Regions from separate parts of the Homo sapiens genome. Here region 1 is linked to region 2. Evidence: fine-mapped expression QTL. A gene starts in region 2. The other region holds a variant in brackets. All regions are shown on one strand. Distances are between the middles of the regions. Region 1 overlaps CEP85 (centrosomal protein 85). Region 2 holds the start of CEP85 (centrosomal protein 85).

The links.
Region 1: its variant is fine-mapped to the expression of CEP85 in whole blood (INTERVAL, PIP above 0.99).

The regions. Positions count from the first base shown.
Region 1 is chr1:26,249,025-26,259,379 of GRCh38, reverse strand. CEP85 (centrosomal protein 85) reads right to left here. Exons shown (of 14, transcript NM_001319944.2): 4 at 3,515-4,209; 5 at 1,650-1,783; 6 at 1,120-1,237. Among named protein-coding and RNA genes, the nearest start is that of CEP85, 20 kb to the right of the region's middle. RefSeq lists a silencer at 1,856-2,056. The variant A/TTA (reference allele first, on the strand shown) is at 4,953.
Region 2 is chr1:26,228,931-26,239,285 of GRCh38, reverse strand. It overlaps CEP85 (centrosomal protein 85), which reads right to left and starts at 5,086. Exons shown (of 14, transcript NM_001319944.2): 1 at 4,976-5,086. It also overlaps the pseudogene ZPLD2P. RefSeq lists enhancers at 4,218-4,267, 4,358-4,417, 4,738-4,887 and a silencer at 9,501-9,669.

The DNA of each region.
Region 1 (10,355 bases), 20 kb before region 2:
GGGTCCCAATAATCTGTATTTTAACAAGCGCTCCAGGGATTCTGATGCACACTCACATTTGAGAACCACTGCCTTAAAGCAATACCTAAGCCATTGTATACTGGAAGGAACCTAGGACAAGACATCAGAAGACCTGGGCTCAAAGCCTGGCTTCCCTCCACTCATTCTCTATATGATCTCAGGCAAGGTCTTCCTCTTTCTCAGGTTTCAATTCTTTAATCAGTAAATTCGAAGAATTAACTAGTTTTATTTAAGGCACTTCCCACTCTTAACATTCTGATTCTATGAGACAGGATACTGCCTTAATTAGGTAGCAAAGCCAGTGCTATAACCTGTCAAATATCCAACATTCAAATGCCCAAATTGCAGAAGCTTGGTCAACAAAGCAGGCTTCTTTTCAAACTCTAAAGCCCCACAACCATTGATCTCAGTGAGAATATTATCTTCTTCAGCTGCTCCTAGATATGGAGGATAAAAATGAGAATGCCCGGGTGCAGTGACTCCCGCCTGTAATCCCAGCACTTTGGGAAGCCGAGGTAGGCGGATCACGAGGTCAGGAGTTCGAGACCAGCCTGGCCAACATGATGAAACCCCGTCTCTACTAAAAATATAAAAATTAGCCAGGCATGGTGGCAGGCACCTGTAATCCTAGCTACTTGGGAGGCTGAGGCAGGAGAATTGCTTGAACCCGGGAGGCGGAGGTTGCAGTGAGCCGAGATTGTGCCACTGCACTCCAGCCTGGGTGACAGAGCAGGGGAAAAAAAAAAAAAGAGAGAGAATAGCTCTAAATCCTGCATTACCTTTGCCTCTCTCTCCTTTGGCTAGGGCTAGAAAATTAAGACTTCTCATAACATCACCCAACTCTAGGACCTTACTATCTACCTTTCTTCCAAGTATGTCTTCACACCCAGGCATCTGGACTTTCACCTGGTTCTTAGCCTTTTCTGCTCCCACAAGGGCATGATAAAGGGTGCTTTATAATTAGTATGCCCTCTTTGAGGGCAGGGACACTTACATCACTTGAGCTCTTTTCTATCTCCTGGATACCTAATGGTGTCAAGCATAGGGAAGACACCGAGTTATGACAAACAGAATGCCATCCTGATGGCCAATACTTACCTGTAGCCTCAGCAAGCAGACATCACCAAAGGGGGCAGGGCGGCCCAAGAGGGCACTGTGGACTTGCAGTTCGCTCTCTCGCACTTTCTGCTCCAGCTGAGAGATGTGTTTCCTCTGCCTGCACAAGCCGGTAGAATCAGGTCAGGGTCCTGATGCTAACCCCTCACAATATGAGCCCCTACTAAGTACAATCCCTATTACGTAAGCAAGATCTTAGATTCTGGATATCACTATTTTCTGAAGGAAGAAGAACAAATGAGAAAGATAACTGGGGAAATGAGGAAAAGATCAGAAGCAATGAACTGGCTACCCCCTTAGGCACTCCCTAGAGCCCCTAAAGAAATACATAACTGGTCTATTATATTAGTTATATATACACGACTAGGCTGCTTATCAAACTACCTCCACCATGAGGCAAGACATGGACCTAAACAGAGGAGGAATGCTTTGCCCTTGGGAAGACTCCATTAGGTGTCTTCAATGGGGCCTGGGAGAGTAGTCTGGCTCTGTGGTACCCCTTGCCCTCTTACTTGTCAATGAGAAGCTCTTTTTCCTTCAGAAGGTGTTCATTACTGTTCAAGATGCTGATCCACTGTGCTGGCTCTAAGATGGGCAGTGAAGGACCAAAAGCAGCAGGATGGTGGCAGATGGCTCCATTCTGAAGCTGAAAGGCAAGTAGGCCCAGATGAGCTTGATCTTGACCCATACACGCCTGAAAACACCTGAGCAGTAATCAGCTGGGTCTGTAGTCAAAGCCCAACTTGGCTCAGCCTGATGAGGCCCAATGTTTATGAAATAATTTTAGCTCTGAGGCATGACTGGAAAGAACCTGCCAGGAAGGCTTCTGCCAACTGAACACTCCCTGTTCAAAAAGGCTCTAGTTTCTAAGAAAAGGTCAGTTATCTTTTATTATCTAGCAACAGAGGCAAACCAGGAGCTAGGATGTCCTCACCAACCAAGGAAGGGGAATATGTCTGCTCCCTTCCTTCCCACTCTTCAGCAGCACAAGGATTTTTTAAAAGAAAATATGCTGGGTGCGGTGGCTCACGCCTGTAATCCCAGCACTTTGGAAGGCCAAGGTGGGCAGATTGCCCAAGCTCAGGAGTTCTAAACCAGCATGGGCAACAGGGTGAAAACCCGTCTCTAATAAAAAATACAAAAAATTAGCCAGGCGTGGTGGCATGCGCCTGTGGTCCTAGCTACTCAGGAGGCTGAGGCAGGAAAATTGCTTGAACCTGAGAGGTGGAGGTTGCAGTGAGCCAAGATCATGCCACTGGGCGACAGAGCAAGACTCTGTCTCCAAAACACACACACACACACACACACACACACCAAAACAAAACAAAACAAAAAAAGGAAAATACAGGCAGGCACAGTAACTCACCCCTGTAATCCCAGCACTTTCGGAGGCTGAGGCGGGCGGATCACAAGGTCAGGAGTTCGAGACTAGGCGGGCCAGCATGGTGAAACCCTGTTTCTACTAATAATACAAAAAAGAGCTGGGCGTGTTGGCACGCACCTGTAGTCCCAGCTACTCGGGAGGTTAAGGCAGGAGAATCACTTGACCTTGGGAGGTAGAGGTTGCAGTGAGCCGAGAACACGCCACTGCACTCCAGCCTGGGCAACAGAGCAAGACTCCATCTCAAAAAAAAAAAAAAAAGAAAATACAAAAGTGGTAGAGAGAACACAGGGGCTCAAAGAAGGTTTTCACATTTATTTATTTATTTTTTGAGACAGAGCCTCGCTCTGTCATCCAGACTGGAGTGCAATGGCGCAGTCTCGGCTCACTGCAACCTCCGCCTCCCAGGTTCAAGCAATTCTCCTGCCACAGCCTCCTGAGTAGTTGGGACTACAGGCGCATGCCACCACACCTGGCTAATTTTTATATTTTTAGTAGAGGCAGGGTTTCACTCTGCTGGCCAGGCTGGTCTCGAACTCCTGCCCGCCTCGGCCTCCCAAAATGCTGGGATTATAGGCGTGAGCCACCTGGCCTCAAAGATGGTTTTTAAACCCCAGCTCTGCCAATTACCAACTCTATGACCCCGTACAGATTATGTAGTCTAAGAACCTGGTAAGTTTCTACATCTACCTCGTTAGTACACTATGAAGATTAAATAAAATGCTGTATGTGAAAGTACTTAGCCTAGTGACGTATAAATACGTTTTTAGGTTTTCCTTTGTAACCTTTTGCTATTTTGGAGACCCTATCTGGTGCTTAATTTGACTACCAAACAGATTCAATGGCCAACAGCTCACAAGCCTGTATTTCCTGTCTACAAACATCTTCCTTCTTTTTACAGCTATTTTCTTTAAGCCAAAATTCAAAGGACAAAAGCTATTACAATTCTAAGAACTGTACAGAACCTAGAAAATCCAAGGAAAGATAGACCTCTACCTGCATTTGCTCCATCTGTAAACGAATCAATTCCAGCTGCTGCCGACAAGTGCTGAGTTCACAAGATTGCTCTCGGGGATGCCAAGTGTCAGGACTCGGCTGCCACACCTGAGAGGGCAGAGGCTTGGAGAGCCCGGGAGCAGGCTGGAGTCCCAAAGGGAGGACCCCACTGCTATTAGAATGTGGTCCATTCCGCTCAAACACTGCCCCGCTGCCCGGTGCCTTCTTGGCCTCAGGCAACACTCTGTACAACTCCTTACTTGTGCTGGTTCTTGGGTTGTGGAAGCGGACTCGGTGGTGAGGATCTGAATAAAGTGTCTCCATCATTGCCGACTGATTGAGGGTAGATTCCATGCTAGGAATATCAAACTTCCTCGCCTCTTCTTGTCTTTCATGGCCCACTGCTGGAAACCAGGACTGCTCAATTCCATTTTCTCCAGTAGCACCAGAGAAATACATGAGATCTCTAGATAGGCCTGGAGAATGTTTCATTGCACCGAGGTCTCCATTTCTTGTCATTCCCACACTTTCAGCCAACCCTGACAAAGGGAGTTTAGAGGAAGAGGGTCCAACAGGTGTAGAATTTGGCTTGGCAGGAGAGGTCCCTAAAGTAGAAGGCATCACATGGGCTGTTGGAATGGTTACGTGGCTTTTGATGGGCTGGAAAGGAGGACTGCCACTTGAGCTGCAAAAATCTGGGGAGAGAATAGTCTTCCATAAGTAAAAATTGAAGTAGCAAGCTTTCTTGAGTTTGAATGCTATGCCAGAAGCTCTCGGCCTGTCCTGAGACCAAGCAGAGAGAGCACCATCATCAAAAGTATCAGGCAGAAAGAAACGGCAACCAAACTGGGAGATGTATGTTCCAGGATCTCAAATGCCATTCACAAGGTAAACTAACAAAAGGCAATAATGACTTCACTTTTAACTTAGTCCTTTGTACTGGAATAAAAAAAATCTTGTCAGTCAACAGACAAAGCTGAAAAACTTTTAAAAAGTTTTTTAAAAAATTTAAACTTTAAAACAAATTACTTACTTAAGGAAAATGAGTTAGGTCCTACTCTTCTGGAAGCTGGACAACTCTCAGCTATAATCAAATCTAATAAAAATATCCTTTCCAAGAGTCACCAGAATCTTCTGCGACCTCCAAAAGCTCCCCCAGGAAGGTGAGCAACGAGTCCAAACTATCTGAAGAATGAAGCGAACTAGACAGTCTTGCTCAGTATGCAGGACAGGGAGTATGGCATCTGAGGCAGGATTCTGTTCTCTCTCCCATACCCCAAACCTGACTGCCTGGATATGTGAAGTTATTCTTAGTAACTCTCAGGTTTCACTCTAGCACAGTGAGCACTCTCAATTGGGTACACACTGAAATCCTCTATTTTATATTTTGCCTTTCACTTGCCCCCTTGTGTGTACCCAACTGTGTTTTTTTTTTTTT[A/TTA]ACTTTTCCTTCAGACTGAATTTGTGTTTCCTTTGGCTCCTGCCTGGTCTTGGGAGACAACCCTTGATTAGCCCTACTATACAAGGTTCACATTTCTACCTATTTCCAACTTTCAAGTACTACTCTGAGGGGGACTACTGCAAGCAAACAATAAGGGAGGAATGTGAGGTAACATACTTATTGCTTTCAGCAGGCAGAAAACTGAATAAGGAAATAAGGAATACCAATTTCTTCTCTTTTCAACTATATTCAGTACTCGTTCCCAAATCAAGCATATCTACCACGGAGAAGAGCGACTACCAACTTGTTTCTTTTTCTCCCCAGCAACCAACACAGAGAACACTCAGATAACAACAACAAATACTATAATTGTTCCCAGAATTATGTAAGTATAGATCAGCTACGACCTTCTCATTAAACAACTTTTTTTTTTGAAATGGGGTCTCACTCTGTCACCCAGGCTGGAGCACAGTGGCGTGATCACAGTTCACTGCAGCCTCGACCTCCCCAGGCTCAGGTGATCTTCCCACCTCAGTTTTTGTATTTTTAGGAGAGATGGGGTTTCGCCATGTTGCCCAGACTGGTCTCGAACTCATGGGCTCAAGTGATCCACCTGCCTCAGCCTCCCAAAGTGCTAGGATTACAGGTGTGAGCCACCATGCCCGGCCTTAAGCAACTCTTTAAAAATATGGGCAAGCCACCTCACACCTGTCAGAATGGCTATGATGAAAAAGATGAGGCCGGGCGCAGTGGCTCATGCCTGTAATCCCCAGCACTTTGGGAGGCTGAGGAGGGGGGATCATGAGGTCAGGAGATCGAAACCATCCTGGCTAACACGGTGAAACCCTGTCTCTACTAAAAATACAAAATATTAGCCAGGTATGGTGGCACGCGCCTGTAGTCCCAGCTATTCGGGAGGCTGAGGCAGGAGGATCGCTTGAACCCAGGAGGTGGAGGTTGCAATGAGCCAGGATCGCACTACTGCACTCCAGCCTGGGCGACAGAGTGAGACTCCATCTCAAAAAAAAAAAAAAAAAGATGAAAGATAACAAGTTTGGAGAGGATGCAGAGAAAAGGGAACTCTAGTACACAGTTGGGGGGAATGTAACACAGCCACTGTGGAAAACAATGGAGTATGTAGCTCCTCAAAAAACTAAAAATAGTTACCATATGATCCAGCAATCCACTTCTGGGTATATATCCAAACGATATGAAATATGTATGTCCAAGAGATATCTACAATCCCATGTTTACTGAGTAATTATTCACAATAGCCAAGTTATAGAATCAACAGACGAACAGATAAGGAAAATGCAGTATATTACACAACGGAATACCAGCCTTATAAAAGATGTCAATTGTGTCACTTGCAACAACATGGATGAAACTGGAGGACACTAAGAGAAATAAGCCAGGCACAAAATGACAAATACTGCACGTTCTTACTTATATGTGGAAGCTAAAAAAAACCTCGACACATAGAAACAGAGAGAATAATTGTGGTTACCAGAAGCTGGGAGCAGGGGGAATCGAGAGATGCTGATCAAAGGGTAAAACATTTCGGTTAGACAGGAGGAATAAATACTTTAAAAAAAGACGTGCAAGCCTTATATTACATGCATAGTATCTAATTTGCTATACTGAAGATGATCTTGGGGATATATAAAAGGCCACACTAAAAAAACACACACACACGTAACAAAACAAAAACCTGAATAAGTTCTGATAACATGCATTAGTCTCTCAGGACCAAGAAAGAAATTTCTCAGTTAAAGGACCCAGTTTCTGATGTCTCACAACTTAAATATAGGACTAGTACACAAGGTTAAGGCAGACTGCTAGTGATAAAGACTTCAAAGACTAGTAAGCAATACAATTTTTTGTTTTATTTTTTGGAGCCGGAATTTCACTCTTGTTGCCCAGGCTGGAGTGCAATGGCGCGATCTTGGCTCACCACAACCTCCTCCTCCTGGGTTCAAGCGATTCTCCTGCCTCAGCCTCCCAAGTAGCTGGGATTAAAGGCATGCTCCACCACGCCCGGCTAATTTTGTATTTTTAGTAGAGACAGGGCTTCTCCATGCTGGTCAGGCTGGTCTTGAACTCCCAACCTCAGGTGATCCGCCCGCCTCGGCCTCCCAAAGTGCTGGGATTACAGGTGTGAGCCACTGCCCCCGGCCCAATTTTTTCTTTTTTGAGATGGGGTCTCACTCACTCTGTTGTCCAGGCTGGAGTGCAGTGGCACGATCTTGGCTCACCGCAACCTCTGCCTCCTGGGTTCAAGCGACTCTTCTGCCTCAGCCTCTCGAGTAGCTGGGATTACAGGAGCCCGCCACCATGCCTGGCTAATTTTTGTATTTTTAGTAGACGGGGTTTCACCATGTTGGCCAGGCTGGTCTTGAATTCCTAACCTCAAGTGATTCACCTGTCTCGGCCTCCCAAAGTGCTGGGATTACAGGGATGAGCCACCGTGCTTAACCATAAGCAATATGTTTTAAATCCTCCATAACAGCACCATAGTTATCAGTTCTTACCAAGGGTCACTGCTCCCACGGTGTAATTACAAAACAGAAGACTGTGAGGTTGTAGCACATGAGGGGTTGCTACCATGAACTTTGCAATACCTCCTTCCAGTCTCCATCCATAGCACCACTCTCTCTAGATTCACCAAATTCAGTTTTGAGCCCACACCCCCTGCTGTGGTTTGAAAGTGTCTGTCCCCCAAAAGTTCATGTGTTGGAAACTTAATTGCCAATGTAACAGTATTAAGAGGTGGGGGCCTCTAAGAGGTGACTGGGTCATGAGGGTAGAAGCCTCATAATAGATTAGCAGAAGTGAGTTAGTTCTCAAAGCAGTGGGTTGTTATAAAAGCAAGCTTGGGGCCGGGCATGGTGGCTCATGCCTGTAATCCCAGCACTTTGGGAGGCTGAGGTGGGCGGATCACCTGAGGTCCGGAGTTTGAGACCAGCCTGATCAACGTGGAGAAACCCTGTCTCCACTAAAAATACAAGATTAGCTGGGCGTGGTGACGCATGCCTGTAGTCCCAGCTTCTCAGGAGGCTGAGGCAGGAGAATCGCCTGAAACCGGGAGGCAGACGTTGCAGTGAGCCGAGATTGCACCATTGCACTCCAGCCTGGGCAACAAGAGCTAAACTCCACCTCAAAAAAAAAAAAAAAAACCAAGCTTGGGTTGGGCACGGTGGTTTATGCCTGTAATCCTAGCACTTTGGGAGGCAGAGGCAAGCGGATCATTTGAGGTCAGGAGTTCAAGGCCAGCCTGGCTAACATGGTGAAACCCCATCTCTACTAAAAATACAAAAATTAGCTGGGCATGATGGCGGGTGCCTGTAATCCCAGCTACTCGGGAGGCTGAGGCAGGAGAAATCACTTGAACATGGGAGGCGGAAGCTGCAGTGAGCCAAGATCCCACCACTGCACTCCAGCCTGAGTGACAGAAATAAGACTCTGTCTCAAAAAAAAAAAAAAAAAAAAAAAAAAGAAAAAAGAAAAAAAAAAGGCAAGCTTGGCTCACTCTAGTGGTCTCTGCTTTTCCACCATGTTATGATACAGCACAAAAGCCTTCGCCAGATGCTGCCACTATGCCTTTGGACTTCTCACTCTCCAGAACCCTGGGCAAAATAAACATCTTTTCTGTATAAGTTACACTGTCTCAGGTATTCTCTTACAGTAACAGAAAATACACTAAGATAACCCCAAAATAATGCCAAAACCAAAGCCAAGAAGAAAAGTACCAACTGACCCAGAAGAATATGGCTTTTCTAATTTTTTATAGATGATAAATGGACATATTAGAAAATTAAGGTGAGGTCTTTGTCCACATTTTTAACTTATCTATTGGGTTTATCTATTTATATTAAGTAAACTGCCTGATTCAGACTAACTGTGCTATGAAATGTAAAGTTACACCAGCGGTTCCCAACCTTTTTGTTACCAGGGAATCGTTTTGTGGAACACAATTTTTCCACAGACGATGGTTGGGGGGATGGTTTCAGGATGAAACTGTTCCACCTCAGATCATCAGGCATTAGATTCTCGTAAGGACTGAGCAACCTAGATCCCTCACATGCACAGTTCACAATAGGGTTCGTGCTCCTATGAGAATCTAATGTCACCACTGATCTGACAGAAGGCGCAAGCTCAGGCAGTAATGCTTGCTCGCCTGCTGCTCACCTCCAGCTGTGTGGCCTGGTTCCTAATATGCCATGGACTGGTACTGGTCCACGGGCCAGGAGTTGGGGACCTCTGAGTTACACCGTAAGTCTGGTCTGTGGTTTAGAATATTTTGAAATGAAATAGCAACACTCATTTTCAAAGGGACCTCTATCTTCTACAATTTTCAAAGGCATTCAAAATTTAGTGTATGGGAACCAGGCAGGTGGTGCATCTCTGTAGGCCCAGCTACTCAGTAGTCTAACTCAGGAGGATTACTTGAGCCCCACCGAGTTCATGGCTATAGTACACTATGATGGTACCTGTGTGAACAGTCATTGCACTCCAGTGTAGGCAACACAGTGAGATCCATCTCTTTAAAAAATACAATGCATGGGATATGTGATTTTTATTTACAGAAATCTACAGTTCCCAAAAACTTTGGGGTTTTGCCATTTTAAGAATATAGTTCTAAATCTCTCCCCTACTTAACCACATTTTATGACCCCTCCCCACCCTAAAAAACAACTCATTTTTGAGCAAACTTCCTTTCACAGTAAGGGTAGATTCAGCTATTACCAAATCTCAGTCACTTCAGTCTACACCTGAAGTGATTCAGTAGCCTGAATTACACCAGTGACTATTTCAGTCTTTTGCAAAGAGCTGAAAGCATTCTGAACTCTTCAGTACCCACCTCTACTCTGTCCCTCGAGAATCTTTCAAGGTAAAACACCTTAGTGAAGAAGGGTGGAATCAAAAGCATGCCTATTAAATTTAAAGATGCAACAATGAACTATACTGTATACCAGTCACAGGGGTTCTTGTCAACTAGACCGCAAGCTAGATTCATGAACAAAATGTGTAAGAGTTAAGATTAGAGGCCAGGAGCAGTGGCTCACGCCTATAATCCCAACACTTTGAGAGGCCAAGGTGAGTGGATCAGCTGAGGTCAGGACTTCGAGACCAGTCTGGCCAACAAGGTGAAACCCCGTCTTTACTAAAAATACAAAAATTAGCTGGGTGTGGTGGCACACGCCTGTAATCCCAACTACTCAGAAGGCTGAGGCAGAAGAATCGCTTGAACCCGGGAGGCGGAGGTTGCAGTGAGCCAAGATCATGCCACTGCACTCCAGCCTGGGTGACAGAGTGAGACTCCGTCTCAAAACAAACACACAAAAAGAGTTAAGATTAGGATCATGGTATGTAACAAACATAGCAGTTTAAAAAATGTCTAGG
Region 2 (10,355 bases):
ACTTCTAAGGATATTTTTAAGACAAAGTAAATCCCAATACTCCACTCTACTTCTCTTCCCAAATCCAGTATAGAAAACCTAGAACCAGAGATTACCAATACAGATTCCATACGGTCCTAGAACCCTTCTGATTTTTATAAAATTTAAAAATATTACTTTTAATTAACAAACTTTACCATGAATCTTCTTAGCCATGGGGACCTGATGACAGGACGAGGTGGATAAAGAACTAAAGAACTAAACCAACAGTGAAGTATTACAGCATCAATTATGATTAACACAAAACAAATTCCTCAATTCTTCCAGTAATTAAAGTCAGTCATACGATGTAAAAAGATGGGAAAGAATTCTTGCTCATAAGTAGAACTCCAATCCTGAGCTAGGAACGTGAAGTTCTCGTCCCATGTTCTCACTCCTTAAAATATTTATATTTACAGTACACTAGGGGTAGGTGCTGAGAATTCAGCAGAAGTGGATTTGAAGTCTAAACAAATACACTTGAACCCACTAAACATTAAGTTATCAATTTATTAGCTGTGTAACCTTGGGCAAATTTCTTAGTATCTCTGTTCCTCATTTTCTTCATATAAAAATGAGGATAACAACACAACCTAATTCATGTTAATTCACTTATAATTAACTTACAACAGTTCCTGACACATACTAAGTGCTGTTATTACTTGGCAATTTACATCAACAAAAGTAGCACTGTACAGCCCATGGAAGATCAAGGAGTATCAACTCAGAAACTCTAAATTTATAAAAGCCCCAAAAGAGTTTGGGACAATTCGGCCGGGCTCAGTGGCTCACGCCTGTAATCCCAGCACTTTGGGAGGCCGAGGCAGGCGGATCACCTGAGGTCAGGAGTTCGAGACCAGCCAACATGGTGAAACCCCGTCTCTACTAAAAATACAAAAATTAGCCAGGCATGGTGGCAGGCGCCTGTAATCCCAGCTACTTGGGAGGCTGAGGCAGGAGAATCGCTTGGACCATGGAGGCGGAGGCTGCAGTGAGCCAAGATCGCGCCATTGCACTCCAGCCTGGGCGACAGAGCAAGACTCCGTCTCAAAAAAAAAAAAAAAAGAGTTTGGGACAATTCACAGAACATAATTCTATCACTCTGGAGAAAAAAGACTATATGGTACTATTTCTCTAATGTACTTTAGTGACCTCTATAGTATTCTCTTGTTACTAAGAGAATACTATAGAGGTCACTAAAGTACATAACAACCCAAACCCTTATTAATTCACTGCATCTACAATAGAAAGGGTATCATCCTCCACAATTCCAGTTCTTCACATACTGGGTGAGGGAAGCTTTGTTCAGTAATAAAAGCTTTAGTTTATGGCAAGTATGATTCAGTGAGTTAAATGATGACATAGAATGATTAGATTACCTCCTTACTAGTGATTTCCTTTCTTGTCAATATCAAAATCCTTTTCTTCACTCCTTTCTTTAAAGGATAACAAAATGGTAGGCGCACTGGATTCTAAGGTGTTTCTAAATTCAGACAAGTTGAAAATACGGTGACAGAAGGAGAACTCCGAGTTACCCTATGACTCAGCAATTCCACACTGAAGTATACACCCAAGAGAAATGAAAACACAGGTTTACACAAAAGCTTCAATAAGAATGTTCGTAGCAGCATTATTTACAATAGCCAAAAAGTGGAAACAACACAAACGTCCATGAGCTAATGAATGGATACATAAAATGTGGTATATCCAAAAAACAGAGTATTATTCAGCAATAAAAGGAAGTACTGATACATGTGACAACATGGATGAACACTGAAGACATGCAAAGTCAAAGAAGCCAAACAAAAGGCTTGATCCTATTTATATGAAATGTCAGAATAGGCAAATCCATAGAGACACAGATTAGTGATTGCAAAGGACTGAGAGGAGGGAGGGTAGGAGAATAGGAAGGGACTGCTAATGGATACCGGGTTTCTTTTCAGGGTGATCAAAATGTTCTGAGATTAGATAGTGGTGACTGACTGCACAACCTTGCCAATATATTAAAAACCTCTGAATTGCACACACATAAAATTAAATTTTATGTTATGTGATATAAGCCAAAAAAAAAATTCTAAGACATCCCCAACCACCTGAATGGATCCCTCCCCTTGGCCAATGGCATTCCAAAGTTAAGCTGAAAAACCTGTTAAGGCCATGATGGTGGTAGTGGTGGTGGAGTCCTACACCCCTCATTATACCCTCCTCCCTTCTGGAATTTAGGAAAAGCATTAACATTAACACAGATGTCTGTAAGAAACATTTATAATCTATTCTCTCTAAAGCCTACTATTTGGAGGCTTCATCTGTACAATAAAATGTTGATCCCCAGGATACCTTAACCCAGACATTCCTTTCTATTGATAACAACTTTCAACCAACTGCCAATCAGAAAATTTTGAAATCTACCTATGACCTGGAAGCCCCCACCCACTAAGAGTTGTCTTACCCTTCCAGATCAATGTAAATCTTACATGTATTTGACTGATGTCTCATGTCTACCTAAAATGTTTAAAACCAGGGCACACGTTATCAGGATCACCTGAGGGCTGTGTCAGGGGCCACTGGTCACCCATATTTGGCTCAGAATAAATCCCTTCAAATATTTCAGAGTCTGACCCTCATTGACAACAAATATCTCAAAAAAGAAAAACAGAAAGAAAGAAACCCCGTAAGGAGTAAAACAATACAAAATAAATCATTCTTGACTTAAGAATTAGATGAGCTACTGGTGGAAATTTTTGGGACAACTGAAGGAGACAGAAATTTCCTGGGATAAAAATGAGAGAAGTGAATGTACAAGAAGTAACACACCAGTTATAAAGCTTAGAAAGGGAGTGAATGGAGGCAGACAGAGGGGAAAAAAAAAAAAAGCACCCAACAGGATTGGTTTCCATCTTCAAAGCCCTTTAAACTACAGAAACAGTCACTCATTCAACAAATTTAACATGCATTCTGCACTTACTACCTATCAAACACTGTGCTCAACACTTTTTAAGTATCATGTCTCATGTTTCATGTTCACATCAACCCTATGAGGCAGTTACTATTATCCTCATTTTATGGATGAGAAAATAAAGGTTTACAGTAGTGAAGGTCATATGGCTAGGAAGAGGCTTCAAAGCCAGGACTGTACTCTAACGCTACAGTAGTCTAGTCAGCATTCTACATGTGACAAAACACAAAAAAAGAGATCAAGCATGGCACCACAAGTTGGAGTTTCTGCCTCAGACAGCTAGAGCTGCAAGCCTCAATTATATGAGCAGTAAAAGCTCATAAAATTTCTTCACTTTGTCCTTGGTCATCACCTAGGCTTTATTTCTCAAGTTGCTACCCAAGAATTAGATTTTGACTGCCGTAAGTATTTTTCCCCTATAAGAATTACAATCTAAGTGTGGCCGGGCGTGGTGGCTCACGCCTGTAATCCCAGCATTTTGGGAGGCCGAGGCGGGCGGATCACCTGAGGTCGGGAGTTTGAGACCAGCCTGACCAACATGGAGAAACGCCGTCTCTACTAAAAATACAAAATTATCCGTGCATGGTGGCGCATGCCTGTAATCCCAGCTACTCGGGAGGCTGAGGCAGGAGAATCGCTTGAACCTGGGAGGCGGAGGTTGCGGTGAGCCGACATCGCGCCACGGCACTCCAGCCTGGGCAACAAGAGCAAAACTCCGTCTCACAAAAAAAAAAAAAAAAAAAAGAATTACAATCTAAGTGTGGAACATCATGCTTGGCAGCTGTTAAGAGAACCACATCAAGACAAGAGAGGATTTGAAGGGATACACAGACAGCTGACACAGACACACGAAGGATCTCACACCATTACACTATTTTCACCGCCTTGATCATTCATTAAACCTTGTGAAAGAGAAGCCAAATCCTTGACAAGAAGTTGCCTTTACAAAGAAAAGTCGTGAGACATACAAAACCACCAGATCACTATAAAGCAGACAAGGTTTGAGGGCAAATAAATGAGGCCTGGCTAGCTTCATCGTCCTTGTATCACCACCGCCCCCTACTTATCCCAGTGTTCAATTCATCAACCGAAATTTACTGCGTGCCTACTATGCGCCTGGCTCTGAGCCACGTGTTGGGAATGTACTGGTGTAAAGGATCGCTCTCATTAACTGAGGTGAAGTAAGCGTTGAATATACTGTTGAACAAATAAACCTGAACACACTAACTTTCAGTTCAACCAAAGCACCAGCTCCTTCTCGCTGAAGGAAGCTTCCTCACCTTCCGCCCTACTGACATTTTGGGGGATTTTTCTTTGTTGTTGGGGGCGTCCTACACACAGTAGGCTGTGTAACAGCATCCCTGGCTTCTTCGCACTAGATGCCAGTAGCAAGCCCTGGAGCTGTGACTATCAAAAGTGTTTCCAGACATCGACCAATGTCCCCAGGGAAGCAAAATCGCCCCGGCCGAGAAGTACCGGGGTAAGGCCCCGCCAAGTGCTTTCCGTCCCACAACCTTAATTCTCTACACAGCCTTCCAATCTCGGCTCAAACTTCTCCTCCTCGGGGAGGGCTCCCTGACCTCTCCGACTAGATCCGCGCCTTCTGTTTTGCGCTCTTTGTAAGATTTCTCCACTCTACCCTCACTGCGCGCCGAGGGATTACCCCGCTTAACGTCGACTCCCAGGGCTGTGCGCTCCGCAAGGGCAAGGAATGCGCCGCTCGCTGTGTCCCTGGCTATCGGCACAGGGCCTGGCACGCAGGTAAAGTGACTGCCGTGGGGTGAACCACGGACGGCAAAGCAAGGCAACGGGGGAAGCGAGGGGAATGGGACGCGAGAGGGCGTATGCCGGGGCACTGGCTTCGGAGCCGAGGCGCATGCGCTTCGCTCTCCCCGGCCCCTCACGGTGGCAGGTCGCGAGCGTCTGAGGCTTCGCCGGAGCTATGGGAGGAGAGGCAAGGTCGGCCACTAGGACTGAGGCTCCCGAAGGAGGAAAACTTACACGGGCCTGAAAGCGGGCGGCGAAATCCCTCACTCGGGAAGACTGACTGCAGCCACCACGTCTGCGGTGAGCGGTGGTTCCCTCCCTCAGCTCCTCTAACGGCCGTTGCACGCCCGCCAGGCCGCGCGCCACAGAACGCGCGTCGTTTGGCCCCACCCCGTTCTGCCGCCTCTGGCCAATCGGGAGTCGAGCCGCGCCGGCTTCCCGCCCCTTTCTATCCTCTTCTGACCAATCGGCAGCCGAGCCGCGTCGGTATCCCGCCCCCACACGCTACCCTCTGCTCAGAGAGCCGGACGGATCTTTCTGCGCATGACCACGTCGCCACTTGGCTCCTTCTCTGCCCCTTGCCGCGTTTTACCTGTAGGTGGAGCTCTGCTCACCTAGACCTGGAGGGGCCCTGCTGGGCCTGTGCAGGTTGGGAAGCTGGCGGCCCGCGGGCGGGGCTGGGGACACGAGAATCCCACTCAGCTTGCCTCACCCTCCTTCCATTCCAACGCCGGTCTATCAGTTCTCACACCTGAAGCAGGGGTTCAGGTTGTGACCAGGAGTTAGGGTGTGGCCTGGGTCACTGACTAGTCAGGGTCAAGGCTTGGTCTGGGTTGGACGCAGTGGTCAGCCTGTGACCAAGGTTCAGGTTGAAGGGTAAAGGATCAGTCCTGCCTCCCTCCCCAAACTTGGTCCACAGGAAAAGGAACTGTTAAGTCCATTTGCATTAATATGCGCTTGAAGAGTCAGACAGGAAAATTGTTTGAAAGGAGAACAGAACCATCAGCCAAAGGAATGAATCTCAGATAGTGAAATTCTGGGTATCTAGAAACCTGACTTGGCAGGGAGAGATACTAAAAAATTGTATAGGAGGCCGGGCGCGGTGGCTCATGCCTGTAATCCCAGCACTTTGGGAGACAGAGGAGGGCGGATCACGAGGTCAGGAGATCGAGACCATCCTGGCCAATATGGTGAAACCCCGTCTCTACTAAAAATACAAAAATTAGCTGGGTGTGGTGGCGCATACCTGTAATCCCAGCTACTCGGGAGGCTGAGGCAGCAGAATCGCCTGAACCAGGGAGCCGGAGGTTGCAGTGAGCCGAGATCGTGCCCCTGCACTCCAAAAAAAAGTTGTATGGAAAAAAAAAGTTGTATAATTTCTTAGCTTTAAGAGCCAGACAAAGTGAGTTCATTACTGAATAAAAGTCACTCTAGAGGAAAGACCCTAGGGATGTGCCCCAAGGTTGTATCCTTTGTCCTCTCTTTTAGTATTTTAAGATAAGAATATAGAAGACATAAAATAGCAGATTTAATGGATAATGAAAATGAACCTGGGTATGATATGAAATTAGGACCAGAAGCCTCTGTTAACGTAAAGGCTAAAAAAAAAAATGTTAAGACAGGGTGTCTAAATGAATAAATTTATGGACTGAAGGGTAGAAAGCTAGAAAGTGTTAGTCCTGGCCGGGCACGGTGGCTCACGCCTGTAATCCCAGCACTTTGGGAGGCCCAGGCAGGTGGATCACTTGAGGTCGGGAGTTTGAGACCAGCCTGTGGCCAACATGATAAAACCCTACTAAAAATACAAAATTAGCCAGGTGTGGTGGTGGGCACCTGTAATCCCAGCTACTGGGGAAGCTGGGGCAAGAGAATCACTTGAACTCAGGAGGAGAGGTTGCAGTGAGCCAAGATCACTGCACTCCAGCCTGGGCAACAGAGCGAGGTTCTGAAAGAAAGAAGGAAAGAAGGAAAGACGGAAGGAAAGAAGGAAAGAAAGAAAAAGAAAGAAAGAAAGAGAAAGAAGAGTCAGAAAACATTGAAAGGCTTCCATTTCTTTTGTGAAAGGCATATGTGAGGAGGGAGGGAACAGGGGCATCTAGAGGACTGAGAAGAATTAGGAAGATGTGAATTGCTGATACAGAGGATAGAAGAGAAATCCGACTGGAAACATAGTGGAAGTGTTGAGATTTAAATTTACAAATAGCAAACAGTACATTTGTACAGTTCTTTGTAATAGATATCTATAGTTTAAAAGTAATTCCATTATCTACTGTCAATTTTCTTTTTTGTTTTGTTTTGAGACAGAGTCTTGCTCTGTCACCCAGGCTGGAGTGCAGTGGCACGATCTCAGCTCACTGCAACCTCTGCCTCCCAGGTTCAAGCAATTCTCCTGTCTCAGCCTCCTGAGTAGCTGGGACTATAGGCACCCACCACTACACCCGGCTAATTTTTGTATTTTTAGTAGAGACGGGGTTGCACCATGTTGGCCAGGCTGGTCTCGAACTCCTGACCTCAGGTGATCTGCCCGCCTTGGCCTCCCAAAATCCTGGGATTACAGGCGTGAGCCACCGTGGCCGGCCCTACTGCCAATTTTCAAATGTGAATGACTTGTCATATGTATATATATACATATATGCTAGTCAGGGTTATTGCACAGTCTGAGGCTAGGGTCAGGGCTTGGTCTGGGTTGGAGGCACTGGTCAGCCTGTGACCAGGGTTTAGTTTGAAGGGTAAGGAATCAGTCCTGCCTTCCTCCCCAAACTTAGTCCCCAGGAAAAGGAACCATTAAGTCCATTTGCGTTAATATGAGCTTGAAGAATCAGACTGGAAAATTGTTTCAAAGGAGGAACACACACACACACACACACACACACACACAGACACACATGCATTTGAGAAGGAGTCTCTTTATGTTGCCCAGGCTGGGCTCAAACTCCTGGGCTCAAGCTATCCTCCCGTTCAACCTCCAGAGTAGCTGGGACTACCAGCATGTGCCACCACTCTCAGCTCATTTATATTTTAACAGAGACTTTTGGTCCTAGTTTCAGAGAATATTCATGACCAACCTCTTTAGATATATTCTTTGTTTTTTTCTGAGATGGAGTCTTGCTTTGTCGCCCAGGCTGGAGTGCAGTGGAGCGATCTCGGCTCACTGCAACCTCTGCCTCCCGGGTTCAAGCGATTCTTCTGCCTCAGCCTCCTGATTAGCTGGGACTACAGGCGCACGCCACCATGCCTGACTAATTTTTGTATTTTTAATAGAGACGGGGTTTCACCATGTTGGCCAGTCTGGTCTCAAATTCCTGACCTTGTGATCCACCCACCTTGGCCTCCCAAAGTGTTGGGATTACCGGTGTGAGCGCCTGGCCAATATAAGATATTCTTAAATTGTCAGTTACATTATTATTTTTAAAAGACTAGCTGGATGTATTAGTCTGTTCTCACGGTGAGAACAGACTAATGTTCACTGGGTAAGACATACCTGAGACTAGGTAATTTATAAAGGGAAGAGGTTTAATTGACTCACAGTTCCACAGGGCTGGGGAGGCCTCAGGAAACTTACAATCATGGCAGAAGGGGAAGCAAACACATCCTTCTTCACATGGTGACAGCAAGGAGAAGTGCCCAGCAAAAAGGGGAAAAGCCCTTTATAAAACCATCAGATCTTGTGAGAAGTCACTTTCATGAGACCAGCATGAGGGCAACCGCCCCCATGATTAAATTACCTCCCTTCAGTTCCCTCCTATGACACATGGAGATTATGGGAACAAGATGAGATTTGGGTAGGGACACAGCGAAATCATATCACTGAATATTTTAATAAAATATATCAAGTACACTGACTTAATGACTGAAAAGGGACAGGGTTAGTCCAGATGTGACCCACCTCAGTATAAAAAAAAAATTGCAACTTAGTTACAATCATATAATTAGAGTTATCACTTTCATATGCACTGTGTGGTCTGGTGGATTATTTTATAAGCATCTATTGTTACACAGCACTGAGGCTTCTTTAACATGGTCAACTAATTTAGTTTAAATGCAATAGCTTCCTTGTTTACTTAATTTTATTTCATTTATTTTCTTTTTGAGATATTTAAGCGGAGTCAATATTTTGTCCTTATCCTTCAAGATATATATGTATATATTTTTTCTACTTCCCTTCTTCCCTCAGGATATATTTTATCTATTTATTTTTGAGACAGAGTCTTGCTCTGCCACCCAGGCGGGAGTGCAATGGCACAATCTCGGCTTACTGCAAACTTCCACCTCTTGGGTTCAAGCAATTCTCCTGCCTCATCCTCCCGAGTAGCTGGGATTACAGGCACCTGCCACCACACCCAGCTAATTTTTGTATTTTTAGTAGAGACAGGATTTCACTATTATGGCCAGGCTGGGCTTGCATGCCTAACCTCAGGTGATCCGCCCACCCCAACATCCCAAAATGTGGGGATTACAAGCGTGAGCCACAGTGCCTGGCCAGGATACATTTTAAATAACGGCAAGGGCTAATGCCTTTGATAGCAGGACTGTTTAAAGTCTACTACAGACGTATAAAGTCAATATGAATTCACAATGAAATGTAATTTATTGCTGATTTAATAAATGTGTGACTTTGATGTGCATGAAAAAATAACATGGATTGATCATTTGACATGATTTTTTTCAGGAGCTGTTAAGGCATTAAAGACAACAAAATGTTCCTGCAAATGAATTTTTTATTTTTTATTTTTTTTATTTTTATTTATTTATTTTTTTTGAGATGGAGTCTCGCTCTGTCACCCAGGCTGGAGTGCAGTGGCGCGATCTCGGCTCACTGCAACCTCTGCCTCCCGGGTTCATGCCATTCTCCTGTCTCAGCCTCCTGAGTAACTGAGACTACAGGCTCCCGCCACCACGCCCGGCAAATTTTTTGTGTTTTTAGTAGAGACGGGGTTTCACCGTGTTAGCTAGGATGGTCTCGATCTCCTGACTTCATGATCCGCCCGCCTCGGCCTCCCAAAGTGCTGGGATTACAGGTGTGAGCCACCGTGCCCGGCCAACCTGCAAATGAAATATTAAGACTGTTAAATTTAAATTAAATTTAGCTTTTTTTTTTTTTTTTTACAAGGTCTTACTGTCACCCAGGCTGGAGTACAGTGGCAGGAACACAGCTCACTGCAGCCTTGACCTCCTGGGCTCAGGTGATTCTCCCACCTCAGCCTCCCGAGTAGCTGGAACTACAGGTTCCTGGCTAATTTTTAAATTTTTTGTAGAGAAGAAGGTCTCAAGAAGGTCTCACTATGTTGCCCAGACTGCTCTCAAACTCTGGGGCTCAAGCTATCTGGCACACCTTGGCCTCCCAAAGTGTTGGGATTACAGGTGTGAGCCACTGTGCCTGGCCAAATTTAACTTTTTTTTTTTTGAGACAGAGTCTCGCCCTGTCACCCAAGCTGGAGTGCAGTAGCATGATCTCGGCTCACTGCAACCTCTGCCTCCCGGTTCAAGCAATCCTCTTGCCTCAGCCTCCCGCGTAGCTGGGATTACAGGCCCGTGCCACCATGCCTGGCTGGCTAATTTTTGTATTTTTAGTAGAGACGGGGTTTCACCATGCTGGCCAGGCTGGTCTTGAACT